Regions from separate parts of the Homo sapiens genome. Here region 1 is linked to region 2. The links come from fine-mapping of genetic effects on gene expression. Tissue or cell type: stomach. Region 2 holds a variant in brackets; the other region holds the start of a gene. All regions are shown on one strand. Distances are between the middles of the regions.

Region 1 (5,148 bases), 190 kb before region 2:
CAATAAAATGTGGACACTTTATCATACTTCAACTGAATAACAAATACTTTTGCAAAAATCTACTAACCATCAATATTTCACTCTTTGCACAATACAATCATGACTTAGTGCTTAAAGAAGTATGGATTCTGTGTTTGGCCAATGATGACAGGCTTAAATTTACCTAATACCATCAACATTTAAACAGAACATGTCAGATCTTAACTCCTCTGACTTTATGACTACGCTCATCTTGTCAGATTTCAACAGTTTTCTGTCAGGCAACACCTGGCAAAATAAACCGTTTTCATATAAATTGTAGACATCCCATAATGAGTATGGAGTGATGTGCTGTTATTCCTGTTTCTCCCTGTTTTATTTTCAACTTGAGTTTACATCTGCATCCTCTGAGATAAGCAAAGATGCCCTATGCCAACATTTTTACCCAAGATTTTGTTTTAAAAAAAGAAAACACTAAAAACCATTAAAACAACTTAGGAATCACAACACTTTATTAGTTAGAGTTTCTAACATAGCACTGTTATGGCTCATTCACTTTTGCTTTACACCTAAGGGAGTAAGTGCACAGCCAAGGCTAATAAAAACTAACTTGGCTATTTCTTGGTTTTTGATGGAACCATTCATATGATAAATATACATTTTTTCCCATTATACTATACTCTTGCAAAATAATTTTTTTCTACAAAGGTTATGAGATATCATAAAAATGTCTAATGCATCTGGTTTAAGAATCCAATGCCTCTTTCACATATTTCTGCATCTGTTCACAAAATCCCTTTGACTTCAAAGGAAGCTTTTCAAGAGAAAAAGAAGATACATACAGGAAAAGTGGCCATAAATTTTTAGTAGTCCTTTTCTAAGGCCATTTTAATAACAGCATTGTGGGACAAGTATCTTCCTCAGAATCCTAAAATATCACAAATGATATTAATGACTAAAGATCTGTATAAAGATTTATGATTTCAAAACGTTTTTCTGGTTATTAAAAAGTGTGTGTCTTCAATTTAGACATGTGAAAAATATGTAATGCTATAAAAGGAAACAAATAACTTTTAACCCACTATTTAGGAAGGCCAAAGCAAAATAAAAAAGTTAAAAATGTTTGTTCCCTTCCAGGCTTTTTTTCTATGTATACGTTTATATAAACACTTATATATAAACATAACATCGTAATAACACTATGAACACAATTTTGTATCTTTTCTCAGTCTTTCAAAAAACCACATTAATCTTTCAAACCATCATTTTCAATGACTGAAATTATATGTAGATTTATACTTTAAAAAAATACTCTCACATTTAATACTTATTCTACTCAAAGCTAAATTAAAGGTTTAGAAACATTCATCGGTACTGGAAATTCTACATCTTGAAACAATCTAGATTAATAATTAACTTTAATAGCCCTATTCATAAATGCCACTGAAACAATAGTAGAGGTTTAAGAAATTTTTTCTTTAGCATTTATAATGACTTAGTGTCTTAAACTTCCCTGGGCAGTCATTAGCAGGCTGCAGTTTGTCTTTTTTTTCTCTCTCTCTTTGATTCTCTATTCTCAAGACATCTTCAATTCTTTAGTTTGGAATAAGGGGAAGTTTGGGTCTACGGCTTAGCTACTTTGATAGCATAGGTGTTAATGTGCTATAAATTATAAATAATCATCTCATTCTAGTTCTGCAGAATCAAACCCTCAAATTTCAAGGAGAGGAATTTTTGATAAATTTATCTAATTTTGAATTGTCTTACCTAACATTGCTGCTGAAATTTAAGGTGACATTTGAATAGTTGTTTGCTGACAAGCAGCTTTCCGGTATATATTAATATATTAGCTTATAAGAATTTTGTGAGGCTCACATTAATAAAAAACGGAAGTTCAAAAAATTTATGACATGACTAGAAAAATAAGTTGAACTTAAATTTTGGTTTTCATAATTACTCTCATTGGCTTTGTTTTGGCTTCATAATCATGGAACTATAGATTTTCCAGAGGTTGAAAGAACATTAACGTGTCAATCAGTCCAGCTCTCTTCCTCCACTCAATATGAGCAAAAAAAGAAGAAAAGTCCCAGAGAGATTGTGACTTGTCACACAGCTGTCAAGTGGCAGACCAAACCCTTGACCTCTAGGCTACCTTCCTGTCTAGCGCTGTTTTCAACACAACAGTTACAATAGGTGCGACATCCTCACACCTACTCATTATGGCAATACATATGCAAATGATGCCGGGAAATTACCTAATAAAATCACATTCTCTCCTTTCTCTCTAGTTCCCAGAATATATCTCCCGTAGATAAAGTATGTCAAAGTGCTTGCCACTGAGACTGTACTTGGAAGACGTTTGGTAAAATCCTGAATAACTGAAAGGGTATCCCCTCCCCCTGACTTTTTTGCTATGAGGGTAAAATTCCAAATATTTAAGACAATTCCCAATAAGACCAGGCCGCGACATGGTCTCCGTACGACGAGATTAATGGTAACAGCAGTGTTGTCAAGCGCAGGACAGGACAAACTCTGTAGCAGCTTGCGGTCACTCTTTCACAGCCTGCTAGATAGAGCAGTGCTGTGGAGCCACCAGGAGCAACCAGAATGGAAGATGCACTGACACTTGCTCAAGTACCACACTGCCAACCTGCTGCCCCGACCCAAGCTGCCCAATGCCTAACAAAACTTCTCTACTCTCTCCGATAGCCCCTTAGCGTGTTGTTAGGGTAAGGAGGGTAAAAACAGTAATAAGACCACAAGAAGAGCAGTCTCTAAAACAACCCGTCTCTGAAAACATCACACGCGGGGTAGGCTCACCGCGTTGCCCGGCAACAGCGGCGGCGCTCCGCTCCCAGAACTGGAGGTGGCGGCAAGAGGTCAGAAAGCGGCGCGCTTTTTCCACCAAGAAACCTTTACGTCATCACGTATCCTTGCAACGTCACTACGCTCTGAGCAGGCCGACAGTCATAGACGAGTAGACCTTAGGCGAGGGAAGGCATGTACTTTCCCTAAGAAGCGGGAGGAGAGAAATAAATAGAGGGCAGTGGGATGAGAAGAACCTCGCGGGATGGGAAGCCGCGGAGGGAAGGGCCGTCTTTGGTTACCTGGAGAGCGGGAGCAGCTGCGGATCCCTTATGAAGTGCCCGGATGAAGCTCCAGCGCTCACGCGCTTTCCGCATTGAGTGCAGCGCCATCTTGAGAAGGGCGGAGCCGTCTTGTTTGGAATGACGTCTGTTCAGAGAGCCAATCCCAGTCTCGCGACTCCTGCTTGCTGGGCGCGGCTTGGGCCTCCAGGCTGCGCAGCGCAGCCGCTATCGGGCGGACTGCAGTTCTTGCCGAGCAGGTGGGGACAGGAGCGGGGTGGGGCTTTAGTGTTTTTCCCTGGATCCCTTGTCTGCTCAGCCTTCCTGGAAGGAGAATTTCCTTGGGGGTTATTAGTAGCAACGCTTTAGACTGGAAGAAAGTCAAGTAGGCTGCATTTCTGATCTTAGCTATGTGAAGGCAACCTTTAAAAAGTTTGTTTAGAAACTCCCAGTTCTCTTAGAGGGTAATATAAGTGGTCTTTTTAGACATGTGTGGCCTCATTTCCCTTTTTTTTCTTTGAGACAAGGTCTCACTCTCGCCCAGGCTGGAGTGCAATGGCGCGATCTCGGCTCACTGCAACCTCCACCTCCCAGACTCAAGCTATTCTCCTGCCTCAGCCTCCTGAGTAGCTGGGACCACAAGGGTGCGCCACCACGCCCGGCTAATTTTTGTATTTTGGTGGAGACAGGGTTTCACCATGTTGCCCAGGCTCTCTCAAACTCCTGAGCTCAAGCCAAGCCATCTGCCTCGGCCTCCTAAAGTGCTGGGATTACAGGCATGTGCCACCGCACTGGACTTATGTGGCCTTATTTCATTCGTCCTGTAAACTTTGTTGAACCCTACCGTAATGTGCTGGGCACTGAAGGTACAGAGAAAGACATATCTTGTCTTCAAGTTGTGTACAGTCTAATAGAGTAGCGGATAAATAAATGATGTACACTTAATAGGTGTTAAAGAAGCAAGCACCGCAAGTTTTAAGGAGGAGTGGTTATGACTGTGGTGTTTCAACCTAGTCTAGGGAAGGCTGCAGGAAGGTTATACCTGATGGAAGAAATTGTTTTGTTTGGGGTTATGAGAAAGTTTAATACAGTTTTTCTGCTTCTGTTAATTCACCTAAAAATCTCCCAGACAGATAACGAGTGTTTCAGTAAAAATATAACTGGAAGAAATTCATGACAATTCCTTTATGTGTTTTGTTTATAATTCATCCAGCTACTGAAAATTACCAAGGAGAGGTAGGAGATAAGAGATGCCTATAAAGGAGCTGAAATCTACCAGGGTAAGACAAAACAGTAAATTAAAACCATATAGGATAATCTTGTAGGTATACAAAGTACTGGTGAAGTTCAAGTATAATTGGTGTAATTTAGAAGTGAGCAGGAAAGGGATGAAGGCAAAAAAAAAACTAGGAAATCAAGTTATAGTCTTCAACAAAGCTGATCAGTTTGGTTTTGGCTGTTAAATTTGAGGTGCTTGTAGTACTTCCAAAATGTGATGCCCATTAAATAGATACATGGGTCTGGAGCTCAGAAGAGATTTGAACTACCAAACAGATGGTAATTGAAACCAAGGAAATCCTTGAGACCATCAGATAGAGTTTGTGGAGTGAAAGTAGCCAGATGATGGAAATAAAGGAGCCAAGAGGTGTTGTAGAACCCAAAGAATGTGATATTACTGAGACCCTGGAAACAAACCTTGCCAGGGGAAGGGGGATATATGTTATGCCTTGTAAAATGCAGTTTAATAAATGCCCTACATGTTTTACTCATACATAGAGCAAAGCATTATAGTACAGTGTTTTACATATATTTTATTAATGAGATTACATGACCCTAGCAATTAGCAAGATTAGCTTTCTGACATCTTTAGTCATCTAGATAGCAAGATAAAACCTAGCAATAAGACTATGGTGCACCAAAAGCTGTCAAAGGGTGTACCTACTTTATTTCTTCAAGAAGTAGTTCTTAGTCGTATCTGCAGACTCCTATGACCAATAATATTTCCGTGGGAGGTATTTCCAAGACATAGTCCCACTAAAAAAGGTGGGACTTTAAGACCACAAGTTTTATAACTTTAGTATCC
Region 2 (5,148 bases):
ACATAAATTACTCCATTTTGATTCGGACAACTTTCATAACTGCTTACCATCTGTGCCTCTGTGTATAAAAGTGGACATACTAAAATTTTTCCTTAGGGCTACAACTAAACATCCAGCCTAGCCCTTAGCCAGCACCAAGGAAGAGGCCTGGGGGATAGAGGAACAAATAATGAGACCAAGTCAGGCCATCCCCCATGGGGTGAGGCCTGCAGGTAGGTGGGCCCAGTGTGGTGTACCTCTAGCACAGTGCCTGGCACAAAATTGCAGTTTATTTTCTGAATAAATAACTCTTGGATCAATTGGTTGCTCTCTGGGAATGTGACTTTGCTGTTGAGTTGTGCAGAGTACTCTCTGTCTCCAAGCCAATCCCAGCTTCAGTATCTCACCCCACAATCCACATTTCCCAGTGTCTGGAGTAACAACAATGACCTGGGGCTGGGCTCTCAGCAAGTCAAACCCTGCCTCAACAAACCCAAACTGCTTTGGGGACCAATGTGATGCAAATGTGTACTGAATCCCCTGAATTCCCCCTGGTGATCCTGTCCTGTAACAGGCCCTCCCCATCCCCTCAGGCCAGTGCATTCAGGAAATCAGTGACCACAGGATGGTTTCTCAGCTGGAGGGAAGGTCAGCCTGCATCTGAGCATCTTAGAACATGTTATTTTGTTCCCACTGGTCAATCCCGTCCAAGCTGTACACATAGTGCCTAAGCCACGTTTGTTACTGCAGGCCTGTCTTCGGAAAGGTCACTGAACAGAAGGAGGAGGCACCTTACTCTCTTTTGTTACGTCTTCACCACTTTTGTCTAAAGGGAAGTTTAGCTGGAGGGCTGAGCACGCAGACAGGTTTCTGACTGTGCCACATAGATCCCACATTGCTTCTCTGCCATGATTTATCATCTGTGACTTGACATGTTCTGCACACACGGGCATGTTGTACACATTGAGACATGCTTCCTGCATTCAAAGATTTTCCCATATTGAGGGCATTTTCCTGGTGCAGAATTGAAGACTGAATTGAGGCATTCAGATTGACCTCAACATCTACGGGTCTGGAGGAGGTTTGGGACGTTTCCTTTTCTTCTCTTCAGGGGCCCACTCCTGTTGTAAAGAGCAGCAGCATTTATAATGAGGGCCCAGGAAATGCGGGGGAGAGGGGAGAGCCTGCTATCTCTGCAGTGGGTGACTGTTGTTTCCCTGATCAACAATGTATCATATCCCAGCCTAAGCCTGCCTTTCTCCTTCCCCCTCCACATGGGGAGGGGCCGTGGGCTCAGAGCTCACCTGGAATGCCTCTGGTTGCTGAAGGGCTGGATGGAGACTCTGAGACAACCTGATGGATCATCTCATAAACAGAGCCTGCAGGAAGGAAAAGAAAATTATGCCAGCATAATGCACTTACGAGAAATAGATACGTGCGGTGCAGGGAGAAATGCTTTGATATTAAAATTTTTGTAACTTAAAAAGGCATGAAAAATGATACCGACCACTAACTAATCAACATTCCTTTGCGAATACAGCTTCAGTTCCTAACCAAAAACACATCCCTGCTATTGTCTTGTCTGGATCCAGATGCAAACATGATTAATTAAGTTTCTGGTGAGGAGTGGGACGAGGGCAGTGGGAACTGATGGCTTGCTGAGGATCCTTTTCATATACAGGCCTGGGGAGAATCCCTTAGTCTGGGTGCCTATTTCCCTCCACATGTCAGGGCTTACCCCGTGCACTGACAGCCACGGGGGCAGTGAGTAGGCTGCAGCCAGACCCATGGAGTGAGGCAGTGAGAGGCTGAAAGGAGAGGCTCTACAGACAGTACAGGGAGGCTCTTGGTATCTCCCATTGCCACTGCACAGCACAGCACGGCAGAGTAGCAAACGCATATGCCATGTCTTGTTGGGAGACCTGGGCCCTGCTCCAGACTGCTACCAAGTAGTTTGGGACCTTGGATGAGCTGCCTCAATTTCTCCATTTGTGAAATTGGGAGGTGACAGCGTGCTGGCAGCCCTCGCAGCCCTCGCTCTCGGCCTTGGTGCCTGCCTACTCTGGCCGCCCTTGAGGAGCCCTTCGGCCCACGGCTGCACTGTGGGAGCCCCTTTCTGGGCTGGCCAAGGCTGGAGCCAGCTCCCTCAGCTTGCCGGGAGGTGTGGAGGGAGAAGCGCGGGCAGGAACCAGGGCTGCTCATGGGGCTTGCCGGCCAGCGCGAGTTCTGGGTGGGCATGGGCTCAGTGCCTGCGCACTCTGAGCGGCCGGCAGGCCTGCGAACCCCGGGCAGTGAGGGGCTTAGCTCCTGGGCCAGCAGCTGCTGTGCTCAATTTCTCGCCGGGCCTTAGCTGCCTCCCCGCGGGGCAGGGCTCGGGACCTGCAGCCCACCATGCCTGAGCCTCCTCCCGCCGTGGGCTCCTGTGTGGCTGGAGCCTCCCCGAGGAGCACCGCCCCCTGCTCCACCGCTCCCAGTCCCTCAACCACCCAAGGGCTGAGGAGTGCGGGCGCATGGCACGGGACTGGCAGGCAGCTCCACCTGCGGCACCGGTACCGGATCCACTGGGTGAAGCCAGCTGGGCTCCTGAGTCTGGTGGGGACTTGGAGAACCTTGGTGTAGACACTCTGTATCTAGCTAATCTAGTGGGGATGTGGAGAACTTTTGTGTCTAGCTAAGGGATTGTAAATACACCAGTCGGCACTCTGTATCTAGCTCAAGGTTTGTAAACACACCAATCAGCACCCTGTGTCTAGCTCAGGGTTTGTGAATGCACCAATGGACACTCTGTATCTGGCTACTCTGATGGGGACTAGGAGAACCTTTGTGTCTAGCTCAGGGATTGTAAACGCACCAATCAGCACCCTGTCAAAACGGACCATTCAGCTCTCTGTAAAACAGACCAATCGGCTCTCTGTAAAATGGACCAATCAGCAGGATGTGGGTGGGGCCAGATAAGAGAATAAAAGCAGGCTGCCCCAGCCAGCAGGCACAACCCTCTCGCCTCACCTGCCGCAGTGTGGAAGTTTTGTTCTTTGGCTCTTTGCAAAAAATGTTGCTGCTGTTCACTCATTGGGTCTA[C/T]ACTACCTTTATGAGCTGTAACACTCACTGGGAAGGTCTGCAGCTTCACTCCTGAAGCCAGCGAGACCACGAACCCACCGGGAGGAACAAACAATTCCAGACGCGCCGCCTTAAGAGCTGTAGCAGTCACGGCCGGGCACGGTGGCTCACGCCTGTAATCCCAGCACTTTGGGAGGCCGAGACGGGCGGATCACGAGGTCAGGAGATCGAGACCATCCTGGCTAACACGGTGAAACCCCGTCTCTACTAAAAATACAAAAAAAATTAGCTGGGCATGGTGGCGCACGCCTGTAGTCCCAGCTACACGGGAGGCTGAGGCAGGAGAATGGCGTGAACCCGGGAGGCGGAGCTTGCAGTGAGTCGAGATCGCGCCACTGCACTTCAGCCTGGGCGACAGAGCGAAACTCCGTCTCAAAAAAAAAAAAAAAAAAGAGCTGTAGCAGTCACAGCAAAGGTATGCAGCTTCACTCCTGAGTCAGCGAGACCAGGAACCCACCACAAGGAAGAAACTCCGAACACATCCGAACATCAGAAGGAACAAATTCTGGACACGCTGCCTTTAAGAACTGTAACACTCAGCGCGAGGGTCCCCTGCTTCATTCTTGAAGTCAGTGAGACCAAGAACCCACCAATTCCAGACACAAAAGGAGAGGTTGGATTAAATGTTCCTCAAAGTCTTCCATTTCTGGCTTTTTATTCCAGTGCCCAAAGTCCTTCACACAAAGCAGGTGTCTTATCAGTTGATTGGTCAGGCATGGCCACTATTTTTGGCCGTGGGCAAAGGAGTCTGGTGGGGACGGGGCTGAGAAGTATGCTAGGTGAGTGTCTCTGGCACAAATGGCTGAGCTGCAGAGCCCCAAGCGGCATGGCAGGGACCAGGAGACCCGATTCCTGATCTGCCGCAGTTAACCTGGTGACTATGAGTGAGACACACAACTGCTCTCCATCTCAGTGTCCCCATTAGGAAACAGAAACACCAGGCCCAACCTACCCAAGTGTGTCAGGAAACTGAGAACTGCTCTGGTCTCATGCTGGGACGGTGGCACAGTACACCAAGTGGTATCTTCTCCCAAAGTCTGCTCCTGTGGTAGGAGTCATAGGTCATTGAAGTACACTATAATTGAGTGGTTAAGGTGGTGAGATCCAAAGTCAGGCTGCCTGCATTCAGATCATCCAGCATCCTAACCATTAGGCAAGTTACAGAACTCCTTTGGGCCTTGACTTTATCTGTAAAATGGGAATAATAATCACAGAGCATACCTCATGGGATTATTATGAAGATTAAACACGTTAAAAACTTAAAAATGCTTCTAATTATGCCTGGCACGTTCAGCAGGTATTACATAGGTGTTAGTTTTGTTACTGCCAACCTCTCTCAAGCTTTGGGTGCCCACCAAATGTCCCTTTAGTGTGCACAGACTTGTGTCTTCTTCCAGGAGAGGGTAAGGAAAGCTGCCCAAACTTTCAGCTGCATGGAACAAGTACCTTCATTCATTCATTTCCAGGACAGAGATCTCCGAGTGCCCACAAGGTACCAAGCCCTATGCTTTGGAGGGTCAACGTGACTTTCCACCTTGGCTACCACCTGCATCCACCAGGAGAGCACACAGTGGGTGCCTTCCCTGCATGGTGAACAGGAGCAGCCTTGTGTATGAGTGAAAGAGTTTTATAAGGCCAGCTGGACCCCAGGGTGGTGCCGTGCCAGGTATAACGCCAGAAGCTTCCCATCATACTTTAAGACTCTAGTGAGGGGATTTGAGCCAGAGCCAAGACTAGGATTTAGTGAGCTATTTGATTGGAGGTTTCGCTGCCTCCATCTAAAGCCAATTGATTCCACTAGTGGTTTACCCTTTCTCAACATCAGCTGTGACTGGCTGATTTTTTAAGATTACTATCCACACCCTCTCAAACATTAGAACAATGAATTTCCCAGTTCAAGTTCTATATTTTCTCAATTCCAGAGGAAAGAAAATGACTACTACATGTGTGTGATTTTGTCCCTGGGAGCATCTATGAAATATGCAGCATTCTCTTTCTAGCTGGGAAATCACTTTAAAAATACTATCTCTAATTCATCTTCATGTTTTCGAC

Evidence for each region. PIP is the estimated chance that this variant, and not a neighbour inherited with it, causes the effect.
Region 1: WARS2-AS1 starts here. The variant in region 2 is fine-mapped to the expression of WARS2-AS1 in stomach (GTEx, PIP 0.93).

What each region holds. Positions count from the first base shown.
Region 1 is chr1:119,137,469-119,142,616 of GRCh38, forward strand. WARS2-AS1 (WARS2 antisense RNA 1) reads left to right here and starts at 2,928. Exons shown (of 7, transcript NR_125975.1): 1 at 2,928-3,325; 2 at 4,279-4,345. WARS2 (tryptophanyl tRNA synthetase 2, mitochondrial) reads right to left here and starts at 3,185. Exons shown (of 6, transcript NM_015836.4): 1 at 3,087-3,185. The coding sequence starts at 3,176. RefSeq lists an enhancer at 2,957-3,266.
Region 2 is chr1:119,331,605-119,336,752 of GRCh38, forward strand. All of the region lies in intron 2 of LINC01780 (long intergenic non-protein coding RNA 1780), which reads left to right. Among named protein-coding and RNA genes, the nearest start is that of LINC01780, 5.9 kb to the left of the region's middle. The variant C/T (reference allele first, on the strand shown) is at 3,058.